Linked DNA regions of Homo sapiens. The protein of the gene in region 1 interacts with the protein of each later gene in a pairwise test. Each region holds a gene or a part of one and is shown on either strand. Other genes may lie near its edges. The genes, in order: CSNK1G1, WDCP and MKRN1.

The links.
Region 2: the proteins of CSNK1G1 (region 1) and WDCP interact in a two-hybrid assay, tested with the Homo sapiens proteins (one large-scale study listed by BioGRID and IntAct).
Region 3: the proteins of CSNK1G1 (region 1) and MKRN1 interact in a two-hybrid assay, tested with the Homo sapiens proteins (one large-scale study listed by BioGRID and IntAct).

The regions. Positions count from the first base shown.
Region 1 is NC_000015.10:64,349,624-64,353,276, forward strand, and holds part of CSNK1G1 (casein kinase I isoform gamma-1), read right to left. Parts: intron 1-3,653.
Region 2 is NC_000002.12:24,033,797-24,037,449, reverse strand, and holds part of WDCP (WD repeat and coiled-coil-containing protein), read left to right. Parts: intron 1-3,653.
Region 3 is NC_000007.14:140,469,407-140,473,059, forward strand, and holds part of MKRN1 (E3 ubiquitin-protein ligase makorin-1), read right to left. Parts: intron 2,606-3,653; coding exon 2,477-2,605; intron 1-2,476. UniProt on the Homo sapiens protein: E3 ubiquitin ligase catalyzing the covalent attachment of ubiquitin moieties onto substrate proteins. These substrates include FILIP1, p53/TP53, CDKN1A and TERT.

The DNA.
Region 1 (3,653 bases):
CTCTCTCTTTAGGCCATTTCTGGGATACCACACTAGTGCTATTTCAATTTCTCTGAGATGACTGAGTCTTTCTGGTCCGCTAAGTTAAGGTTATAACCTCAGCAAGTTTGGTCTTTTACAGTTTAGTAACCCAAAAGCCTGCCGTCAGAATTTATTAAGATCCAAAATGAACCTAGCATGGTGGTTAGCACCTGTAATCCCAGCTACTCAGGAGGTTGAGGTGGAAGGATCACTTGAGCTCAGGAGTTCAAGACCAGCCTGAGCAACACACTGAGACCCTCGTCTCCAAAAATTAAAAAAAAAAAAAAAATTAAAAATTAAAAAAATCCCAAATGAAAAGTGCCAACTATGTGCACACATTTAGATGAAAACTAAGCAACTGGCACAGAGGGTAAGATAAAATCCACTACTGAAAGAGTAAATTTAAGTAAGCTTGTTTTAAGTTAAAAATCCTCAGAAGAAGCTTCTTTTCTGGTTTTAAGACATCAAGTGAATAAAGATTTAATCTAAAATATCTTTTTATCAATTTTTTAAGCTTCCATCAACAAGTGGACTATGTTAAATACTACTTATAAAAATGGTTTTATCGGCTGGTCGCGGTGGCTCACACCTGTAATCCCAGCACTTTGGGAGGCCAAGGCGGGCGGATCACAAGGTCAGGAGATCGAGACCATCCTGGCTAACACGGTGAAACCCCGTCTCTACTAAAAATACAAAAAGAAAAAAAATTAGCCGGGTGTGGTGGCAGGCACCTGTAGTCCCAGCTACTCCGGAGGCTGAGGCAGGAGAATGGCGTGAACCCGGGAGATGGAGCTTGCAGTGAGCCAAGATCACGCCACTGCACTCCAGCCTGAGCAACAGAGCAAGACTCTGTCTCCAAAAAAAAAAAATTGGTTTATCAAGTGAACAGTGAGAATTAAAAGATGCATGAAGTTACCATTCATATAGTTTGAAATAACAATTAACTTTAAACAGTATCTGTCATCATCCTGTATAACTCAATATAAAAATGCAAGATCTTTGGTTACATGTTCACTGATAGAGCTGATATTATATAACCTAAATCTACTGAGGATTTTTATTTTTACAAAATAATCTGATGAACTCAAAGCCATAAAACATAAAAGGGGTTGGGAGAGAAGGAATCTGAAACAGATGGCATCTAAATTTTTTTTCCTGAGTCCATCTTGAACACAATCCCAATAATGTCAAAATCCAATTTTGCTCTCCAAATAAGTAATCTCCACAACTTAAAATGGTAATTCTGAAGTAAATCCATTCTTTTTCTTTTTTTTTTTCCTCCCAGCTTCTCAGAGCTTCTATATTGGGCAGAAATGAGTAGAGACAAGTTAACTGTTAAAAAGAGAAAAACTATCATTCCACAAATTCAAAAGTTATTTCCGGAAAATACACTTATCTAAAACCACTGAAGCAGTTTCTATCAATATGTAGTACTAAAATCTATGACACCAGCCTTTTTTTATATAATGATTATTTATCCTTATTAGAGACTAAATCACAGCTCCATAAAAGAAATATGCTTTAAAATAAAAATGAGCTCTGGAAGAATACTCATTTGGTTTGAGTAAAAAGAAAGCACCGCCTGGACTTTTTAATAACATTTTCACAGTAACTCACTCCTGATTGTATAGCGCCAATAAATTCAGCTGTATTTTGTTCATTATCTAATTCTAGTATATGGTACATATATAAACCTTCCCAATCTTTCCTAAAACTTTCTGAGGTCATCCAAGAGATAGATATTAAACAAAGGTTTAGTCATTTTTAGATTTCCTGACAAGCAAATTCCATAACTGACAACTGCAAAGATCCTTGGAACGGCCACAGACTTTGAGAGGAAGTGGTGATTGAGAAATCTCTAACCGTCTCTATTCATTGCACACAATTAAGATAGAATTTTTTACTCTAGCAGCTAGTATACTATCTCTTATATCAAAATTAATAGATTATCGGGCCAGGCACGGTGGCTCACGCCTGTAGTCCCAGCACTTTGAGAGGCTGAGGCGGGCCAATCACTTGAGGCCAGGAGTTCAAGACCAGCGTGGCCAACATGGCAAAACCCCATGTCCACTAAAAATACAAAAATTAGCCAGGTATGCTGGCGCACACCTGTAATCCCAGCTAATCGGGAGACTGAGGCAGGAGGGGCGCTTGAACCTGAGGGGCAGAGGCTGCAGTAAGCTGAGCCTGGGCACTCCAGCCTGGGTAACAGAAACTCCGTCTCAAAAACAAAAAAGATTTTTAAAAATATTAATACAGTATTATAGTTTGAGAAGAAGACAGGGGAAAAAGTGGGAGCTTCTGAGAGCTTTACCAAAGCATATGATCTCAACTTTAAGATTTAAAGGATGATAAAAAAATGATACGAGAAAACACAGCAGGCCGGGCAGGGCAGTTCACACCTGTAATCCCAGCACCTTGGGAGGCCAAGGTGGGTGGATCACCTGAGGTCACGAGTTAGAGAGCCGCCTGGCCAACATGGCCAACACCGTTTCTACTAAAAATACAAAAATTAGCCAGCATGGTGGCGCATGCCTATAGTTCCAGCTTATTCAGGAGGCTGAGGCAGTAGAATTGCTTGAACCCGGGAGGCGGAGGTTGCAGTGAGCCAAGATAGTGCCGCTGCACTCCAGCATGGGTGACAGAGCAAGACTCCATCTCAAAAAAAAAGTGAAAAGATAAAAGAAAACACAGCAGAAAGCTTAGATATATACAGACCTTACACTCTCAGAAGAGCCATTTAGAAAGCTAAATAACCTTACCAAAACTCTGTAACTATCACAAAACATAATTTGAATTCTTCTTTTTTTTTTTTTTTTTTTGAGATGGAGTTTTGCTCTTGCCCAGGCTGGAGTGAATGGCACAATCTTGGCTCACCGCAACCTCCACCTCCCGGGTTCAAGCGATTCTCTTGCCTCAGCCTCCCGAGTAGCTGGGATTACAGGCATGCTCCATCATGCCTGACTAATGTTGTATTTTTAGTAGAGATGGGGTTTCTCCATGTTGCTCAGGCTGGTCTCAAACTCCTGACCTCAGGTGATCCGCCCACCTCGGCCTCCCAAGGTGCTAGGATTACAGGCATGAGCCACCATGCCTGGCCTAATTTCAACTCTTTATAAAACAAAGAGACATGGGGAAGAAATATATTTGAAAATTTCTCAGGGCTGGGTGTGTTGGCTCATGCCTGTAATCCCAGCACTTTGGGAGGCCAAAGCTGGCGGATCACTTGAGGTCAGGAGTTCGAGACCTGCCTGGCCAACATGGCAAAACGCCTTCTCTACTAAAAACACAAAAATTAGCTGGACATGGTGGCACACGCCTGTAGTTCCAGCTACTCAGGAAGCTGAGGTGCGAGAACTGCTTGAACTTAGCAGGCGGAGATTGCAATGAGCAGAGATTATGCTGCTGCACTCCAGCCTAGGTGACAGAGCAAGAATCTGTCTTTAAAAAAAAAGAAAAGAAAATTTCTCACAAATTTACACAAAACTTATGAACTTCTCAAAAAAGGTCAAACTGAATTGCAAACTTTGTATTCTCACAAACATCTATTATTACAGGAAGTTATTTGATTTTTGTCCTCTGAGTATAAATTACATTTGAAAATAACTAACTATAAGTCACCTCAAAAAGCA
Region 2 (3,653 bases), on another chromosome or scaffold:
CGTGGAAAAATAAATGTCTGCACTAATTCGGGCAATTTATATTTAGAAAAAAAATCATGTTATTTCATTGTGACAACCTTTTCCTTATATAATAGAGATACTCCTCCAGTTATAAAAAAGGTTATGTTGCTGGGCTCCATGGCTCACGCCTGTAATCCTAGCACTTTGGGAGGCCGAGGCAAGTGGATCACCTGAGGTCAGGAGTTCGAGACCAGCCTGGCCAATGTGGTGAAACCCTGTCTCTAACAAAAATATAAAAATTAGCTGGGCATGGTGATGGGCGCCTGTAATCCCAGCTACTTGGGAAAGCAGGAGTATCACTTGAGCCCGGGAGGCACAGGTTTCAGTGAGCCGAGACTGTGCCACTGCACTCCAGCCTGGGCAACAGGGCGAGACTCCGTCTCAAAGAAAAAGGAAAAGGTTATGTTCATTTAAAATGTTTTGATGCATTTCTTTATGCATGCATGTCCAAACATTATATAAGTGGGATCATATTATACATGTTTTTATCATGGACACTTTCCTCCTATATAAAATATGGCCTTGCCCCATCTTCCCCTTAATCCGCTGTAACCAGCAGCTTAACATGGATCCTTTCGTGACTTTCTCCATGGTCACATGATCTAACACAGGTCTTTGTGTACATAGATATATAGGTATGTGGGAATGGTTTGTCATTGTTTTTACAAAAATAGGGTGATATGGTGCACTCTTTACTTCATACTGAGAGTATGCTCTTTATTTAGCCATTCCCTTGTTGATTGACATTCACTTTGTTTTTAGTTTTTAGCTACTCCAAATGATGCTGCAGTAGTACTCTTATATGTATCCATTCATATTAGTACCTTTATTTCTGTTGGATTGGTTCCCAGAAGTAGAAATGCAAATTTGAAGAGTATATGTGTTTCTACTTTTAATTGAGTTACCAGATTGCCTCTCAAAGATTTTTACTTAACAGTGCATCATCACACGCCCGCCAGCTATGTATAAGGCTGTCCTTTTCCTCGTATGTCACCAATCTGATCAGTGACCCTCCTGCTTCAGCCTCCTGAGCAGCTGAGACTACAAGCACATGCCACCACACTTGGCTAATTTTTTTTTTTTTTAGCAGAGACAGGATCTTGCTATGTTGCCTAGGCTGATCATGACCTCCTGGGCTCAAGTGATAGTCTTGCCTCAGCCTCCCAAAGTGCTGGGATTACAGGTGTGTGCCACTGCATGTGGCCCCAACCCTACATTTTTTTAAAGAGGATTTTTGCCACATTAACTACATGGAGTTTTCAGTAGTAGAGTTTTAATTTTTTTTTTTAAGTCACAGCTTTGCTGTGAGGAGCATTTTATTTTATTTATTTATTTATTTATTTATTTATTTATTTATTTATTTTTGAGACGGAGTCTCTGTCACCAGGCTGGAGTGCAGTGGCGCGATCTCAGCTCGCTGCAACCTCCAACTCCCAGGTTCTAGCAATTCTCCTGCCTCAGCCTCCCAAGTAGCTGGGATTACAGGCACGTGCCACCACACCTGGCTAATTTTTGTATTCTTAGTAGAGGCGGGGTTTCACCGTGTTGGCCAGGATGAGCTCAATCTCCTGACCTTGTGATCTGCCCGCCTTGGCCTCCCAGAGTGCTGAGATTACACGTGTAAGCCACTGCGCCCGGCCTAATTTTTTTTTAATTAAAAAAAATTTTTTTTTAACTATAGAGACAAGGTCTTGCTATGTTGCCCAGGCTTGTTTGGAAGTCCTGGGCTCAAGCAGTCCTCCTGCTTCAGCCTCCCAAAGCGCTGGGATTACAGGTGTGAGCCACTGCACCCAGCCATAGTTTTGATTTTTTTAAAATTATTTTATTTATAAATGTGATAACTGGTTTGGATTTCTTTCCTACTATGACTTTTTAAAGAGTTTGTTTTCTTTTTCTTCTGTCTTTTTTTAATAGGTAATTCATTTATTTGGTTTAAAAAGCAAAACTGTATTTTAATAAAAACTGTATACCAAGAACTCTTATTCCTACCCTATGTTTCTTCAGCCTGTTCTCCTTTCCTCCTTTAGGTAACCATTTTTATTTTTATTTCTTTATGCAGATACTAGCAGACTTTAGTTATGTATTTTTATTTCCCCTTTTGTTACACAAAAGGGAAGGTGATATACACACCTTTTCATTTTCCATTTAATAGTATGTCCTAGAGAGCTCTTTATATCAGCACACAGAGCTCTTTTTTCATCTTTTTTTCCACAGCTGCATAGTATTTTTTTTTCCTAATTACAAAAGTAATATATACTTGTTGAGGAAAAAAATTTTACCATTACAGAAAGTAAAAATTTTCCATAATCCAACCTTTAGAGAAAATCACAGATATAGCTAAATATTTTATTAGATGTTAGATGTAAATATTTCCATATTTTTTCTGTACATTTATCTAATCCAAAAAAAATCTAATATAAAAATATATTATTTTTAAAATTTTCTTTAAATAGGCTATTTTACTTGCAAACAATAATATATCTTTCTGTTTTTAAAACACTTATAAATGTAAAATTTTATATTTTTAAAAACTAAGGTTAAAACAACCATGTTTGGCCAGGCACAGTGGCTTAAACCTGTAACCCCAGAACTTTGGGAGGCCGAGATGGGTAGATCACTTGAGTCCAGGAGTTCGAGACCAGCCTGGGCAGCATGGCAAAACCCTGTCTCTACCGAAAAATACAAAAATTAGCCAGCCGTGATGGCACCCACCTGTTTTCCCAGCTACTTGGGAGGCTGAGGTGTGAGGATCACCTAAGCTGAGGAGGTTGAGGCTGCAGTGAGCTGTGATCGTGCCACTGCACGCCAGCCTGGGAAACAGAGCAAGACTCTGTCTCAAAAAAAAAAAAAAAAAGTTTTGTTGCCCTTTCAATTCCTCAGTTTTTTAGTTTATAATTATGTCATCCAACCAAGCTGTTGTCAGTAGTTATCTCTGGAGGATAGAATTTTGGGGGCTTTACTGTCTGCATTATATATTTCTGTTATATTTTTATTTTATTTATTTATTTTTAGATAGAGCTTTGCTTTGTCACCCAGGCCGGAGTGCAGTGGCGCGATCTTGGCTCACTGCAACCTCCGCCTCCTGGGTTCAAGCGATTCTCTGCCTCAGCCACCCAGGTAGTTGGGATTACAGGTGTGCACCACCACACCCAGCTAATTTTTGTATTTATAGTAGAGATGGGGTTTCACCATGTTGGCCAGGCTGGTCTCGAACTCCTGACCTCAAGTGATCCACCCGCCTTGGCCTTCCAAAGTTCTGGGATTACAGGCGTGAGCCACCACACCCGGCCCTATTATACTTTTAAAAAATTGATCATTTATTCCTTTTGTAATGAGAAAAGTAAAAGTTACACAATAATCAAAAGCAAGAAATAGTTTCCCCTGTAATTTCAGAAATTACATTTCATAAGACGTGAAATAAATGATTAGTTGGTTTTGACTTTTACAGTTTATTCCTGTGACTTCATTTAAAAATATTAGTGGACATATTCTTTGAGTGGTTCATCCTACCACAGTGATGTATAGTTTTATTTTCTTTTTATGAGATGGGGTCTTGCCATGTTGCCCAGGCTGCTCTCCAATACCTGGGCTCAAGCAATCCATGCACTCTGGCCTCCCAAAGTGCTTAACAA
Region 3 (3,653 bases), on another chromosome or scaffold:
TGCCTTCCTTCAAAAGGTAGAGCCCAATCCTCTCCCTTTACATGTGGGCTGGACTTAGTAACTTAGTCCAGAATCAGTGGAAATAACAGTATATGACTTCTGACACTAGGTCATAAAAGGCATTGTGGCTTTTCCTTGCCTCCTCTGTTAAATTGTTTGCTCTGGGGAAAGCTAGCTGCCAAGCTGCAAGGATACTAAAGTATCCCTATGAAAAGGCCCATGTGGGCCAGGCGGGGTGGCTCACGCCTGTAATCCCAGCGCTTTGGGAGGCAAAGGCAGGTGGACTGCCTGAGCTCAGGAATTTGAGACCAGCCTGGCCAACATAGTGAAACCCCGTCTCTACTAAAAATACAAAAGTTAGTGGGGTGTGGGCCGGGCGCGGTGGCTCATGCCTACAATCCCAGCACTTTGGGAGGCTGGTGTGGGCTGGTCAGGAGATCAAGACCATCCTTTCAACAAGGTGAAACCCCATCTCTACTAAAAATACAAAAATTAGCTGAGTGTGGCGGTGCATGCCTGTAATCCCAGCTACTCGGGAGGCTGAGGCAGGAGAATCACTTGAACCTGGGAGGTGGAGGTTGCAGTGAGCTGAGGCTGTGCCACTGAACTCCAGCCTGGCGACAGAGCTAGGCTCTGTCTCAAAAAAAAAAAAAAAAAAAAAAAAATTAGCCAGGTGTGGTGGTGCATGCTTGTAATCCTAGCTACTCTGGAGGCCAAGGCAGGAGAATCTCTCGAACGCGGGAGGCAGAGGTTGCAGTGAGCTGAGATCATGCCATTGCACTCCAGCCTGGGTGACCAGCAAAACTCCGTCTTGAAAAAAAAAAAAGGCCAAGTGGTGAGAAACCAAAGTCTCCTGCCAACAGTCATGAGAGTAAGACCTCTTAAAAACAATACTGGGCTAGGCACCATGGCTCACGGCTGTAATCTCAGCACTTTGGGAAGCCGAACCGCGTGGATCACCTGAGGTCAGGAGTTCGAGACCAGCCTGGCCAACATGGTGAAACTCCGTCTCTACTAAAAATACAAAAATTAGCTAGGTGTGGTGGCGGGCGCCTGTAATCCCAGCTACTCCGGAAGATGAGGCAGGAGAATCGCTTGAACCCAGGAGGCGGAGGTTGCAGTGAGCCGAAATTGCGCCACTGCACTCCAGCCTGGGCGACAAGAGCAAGACTCCATCCTAAACAAAACAAACAAAAAAACCCAAACAAACAAACAAAAAACAATGCTGGCTGGGCACTGTGTCTCACACCTGTAATCCCAGCACTCTGGGAGGCCGAGGTGGGCAGATCACTTGAGGTCAGGAGTTCGAGACTAGCCTGGCCAACATGATGAAACCCTGTCTCTGCCAAAAATATAAAAAATTAGCCGGGCATAGTGGCACGCAGATGTAATCCCATCTACTTGGGAAACTGAGGCAGGAGAATTGCTTGAATCTGGGAGGCAGAGGTTGCAGTGAGCCGAGATCTTGCCACTGCACTCCAGCCTGGGCAACAGAGGGACAAGACTCGGTCTCACACACACAAAAAATATCCTGGAGTCCCCATCAAGTCTTCAGATGACTTGCTAAAATTTTGACTGCCATCTCATAAGTGTCTCTGAGATAGAACCATCCAGCTAAGGCACTCACAGAATCCGGAACCCCAGAAACTGAGATAATAAATGTTCACTGTTTTAACCTACTAAATTTGGGGATGGGCCAGTTTCTGGGGCTCATGCTTGTAATCCCAACACTTTTCGGAGGCCAAGGCAGGAAGATTGCTTGAGCCCAGGAATCTGAGACCAGCCTACGCAACATATTAAGACCCCCATCTCTACAAAAAACTAAATAAATGAGGTGGTGCATCCCTGTGGTCCCAGCTACTTGGGAGGCTGAGGTGAGAGGATCATTTCAGCCTGGTAAGTTGAGGCTGCAGTGAGAAGTGACCACACCACTGCACTCCAGCCTGGGCAACACAGTAAGACCCTGTCTCAAAAAAATAAATAAAAAATAAATTTGAGGGTTACTTGTTTAACATCCACAGATAATACACCTAGTCATTTCTGAACTAGGAGGATAGAAAAGCCCTACCCAATTTTTTTTTAAGGTGGAGTCTCGCTCTGTTGCCCAGGCTGGAGCGCAGTGGCGGGCTCTTGGCTCAGTGCAACATCCACCTCCCGGGTTCATGCAATTCTCCTGCTTCAGCCTCCGAAGTAGCTGGGATTACAGACGCACACCACCATGCCCAGCTAATTTTTCTATATTTTGTAGACATGAGGTCTCACTAGGTTACCCAGGCTGGTCTCAAACTTCCAAGATCAAGCAATCCTCCTACCTAAGCATCCCAAAGTGCTGGGATTATAGGCATGAGCCACTGCCCAGCCAAGAGTCATTTTCAAAGCATTATTTTTAATCAGTGACATATAAAGCTATCAGAAGTATGTCTTTTACCTTTTTCCTCCAACCCACCCCTGAACAAATTTATAAACAAATTCTTACCTGCAGCGGTCTCCATAAATACAGTACCCTCGCTGAAAATACTTGCACACTACACTATACGGACTGTCAGAGAGGTCATGCGAGTAGCGACAGTTGTCTCCTTCCTTACAAACCCCATGCATAAAATACCTGTGAGACGAAAGACCACAAAACTGGATTAAAACCAATCCTTGAAAATATTAAAACTAATTAGTATTCATGACTAATATATTCAACCAGTAAATACACAAACATACGAAATAAACACAAAGAAAGGGCCAGGCATGGTGGCTCATGCCTGTAATCCCAGTACCTTTGGGAGGCTGAGGTGAGTGGCTCACCTGAGGTCAGGGGTCTAAGACCAGCGGTTCGAGACCAGCCTGGGCAACATGGTGAAACCCCGTCTCTACTAAAAATACAAAAATTGGCTGGTGTGGTGGCACACATGTTAATCCCAGCTACTCAGGAGGCTGAGGCAGGAGAACTGCTTACACGTGGGAGGCTGAGGTTTCAATGAGCCGAGATCGCGCCATTGCACTCCAGCCTGGGAGACAGAGCAAGACTCCATTTCAAAAAAAAAAAATAAAAAGAAGGTGATAAGAAAACAGGAGTAAAGCAAGTGTATTAGTCCGTTTTTGCATTGTGTTTTTGCTTTGTAGCTGGGACTACAGGCGCCGCCACCACGCCCGGCTAATTTCTTGTATTTTTAGTAGAGACAGGGTTTCACCATGTTAGCCAGGATGGTCTCGATCTCCTGACCTTGTGATCTGCCCACCTCGGCCTCCCAAAGTGCTGAGATTACAAGCGTGAGCCACTGCGCCTGGCCCTTGTTTTTGCATTGTTACAACGAACTATTTTGACATTCCAGCCTGGGTGATGGAGCACGACTATGACTCTGTCTCAAAAAAATGTAATAATAATACGCCTTAGATTATGAAAACTGTTTAACTTACATAACAAAAAGAAAAAAAAAGGGCCAGGCGTGGTGGCCCACACCTGTAATCCCAGCACTTTGGGAGGCCAAGGCGGATGGATCACGAGGTCAGGAGATCAAGACCATCCTGGCTAATATGGTGAAACCCCATCTCTACTAAAAGTACAAAAAATTAGCCGGGCATGGTGGCAGGCACCTGTAATCCCAACTACTCGGGAGGCTGAGGCAGGGATTGCAGTGAGCCGAGATCGTGCCATTGAGCCA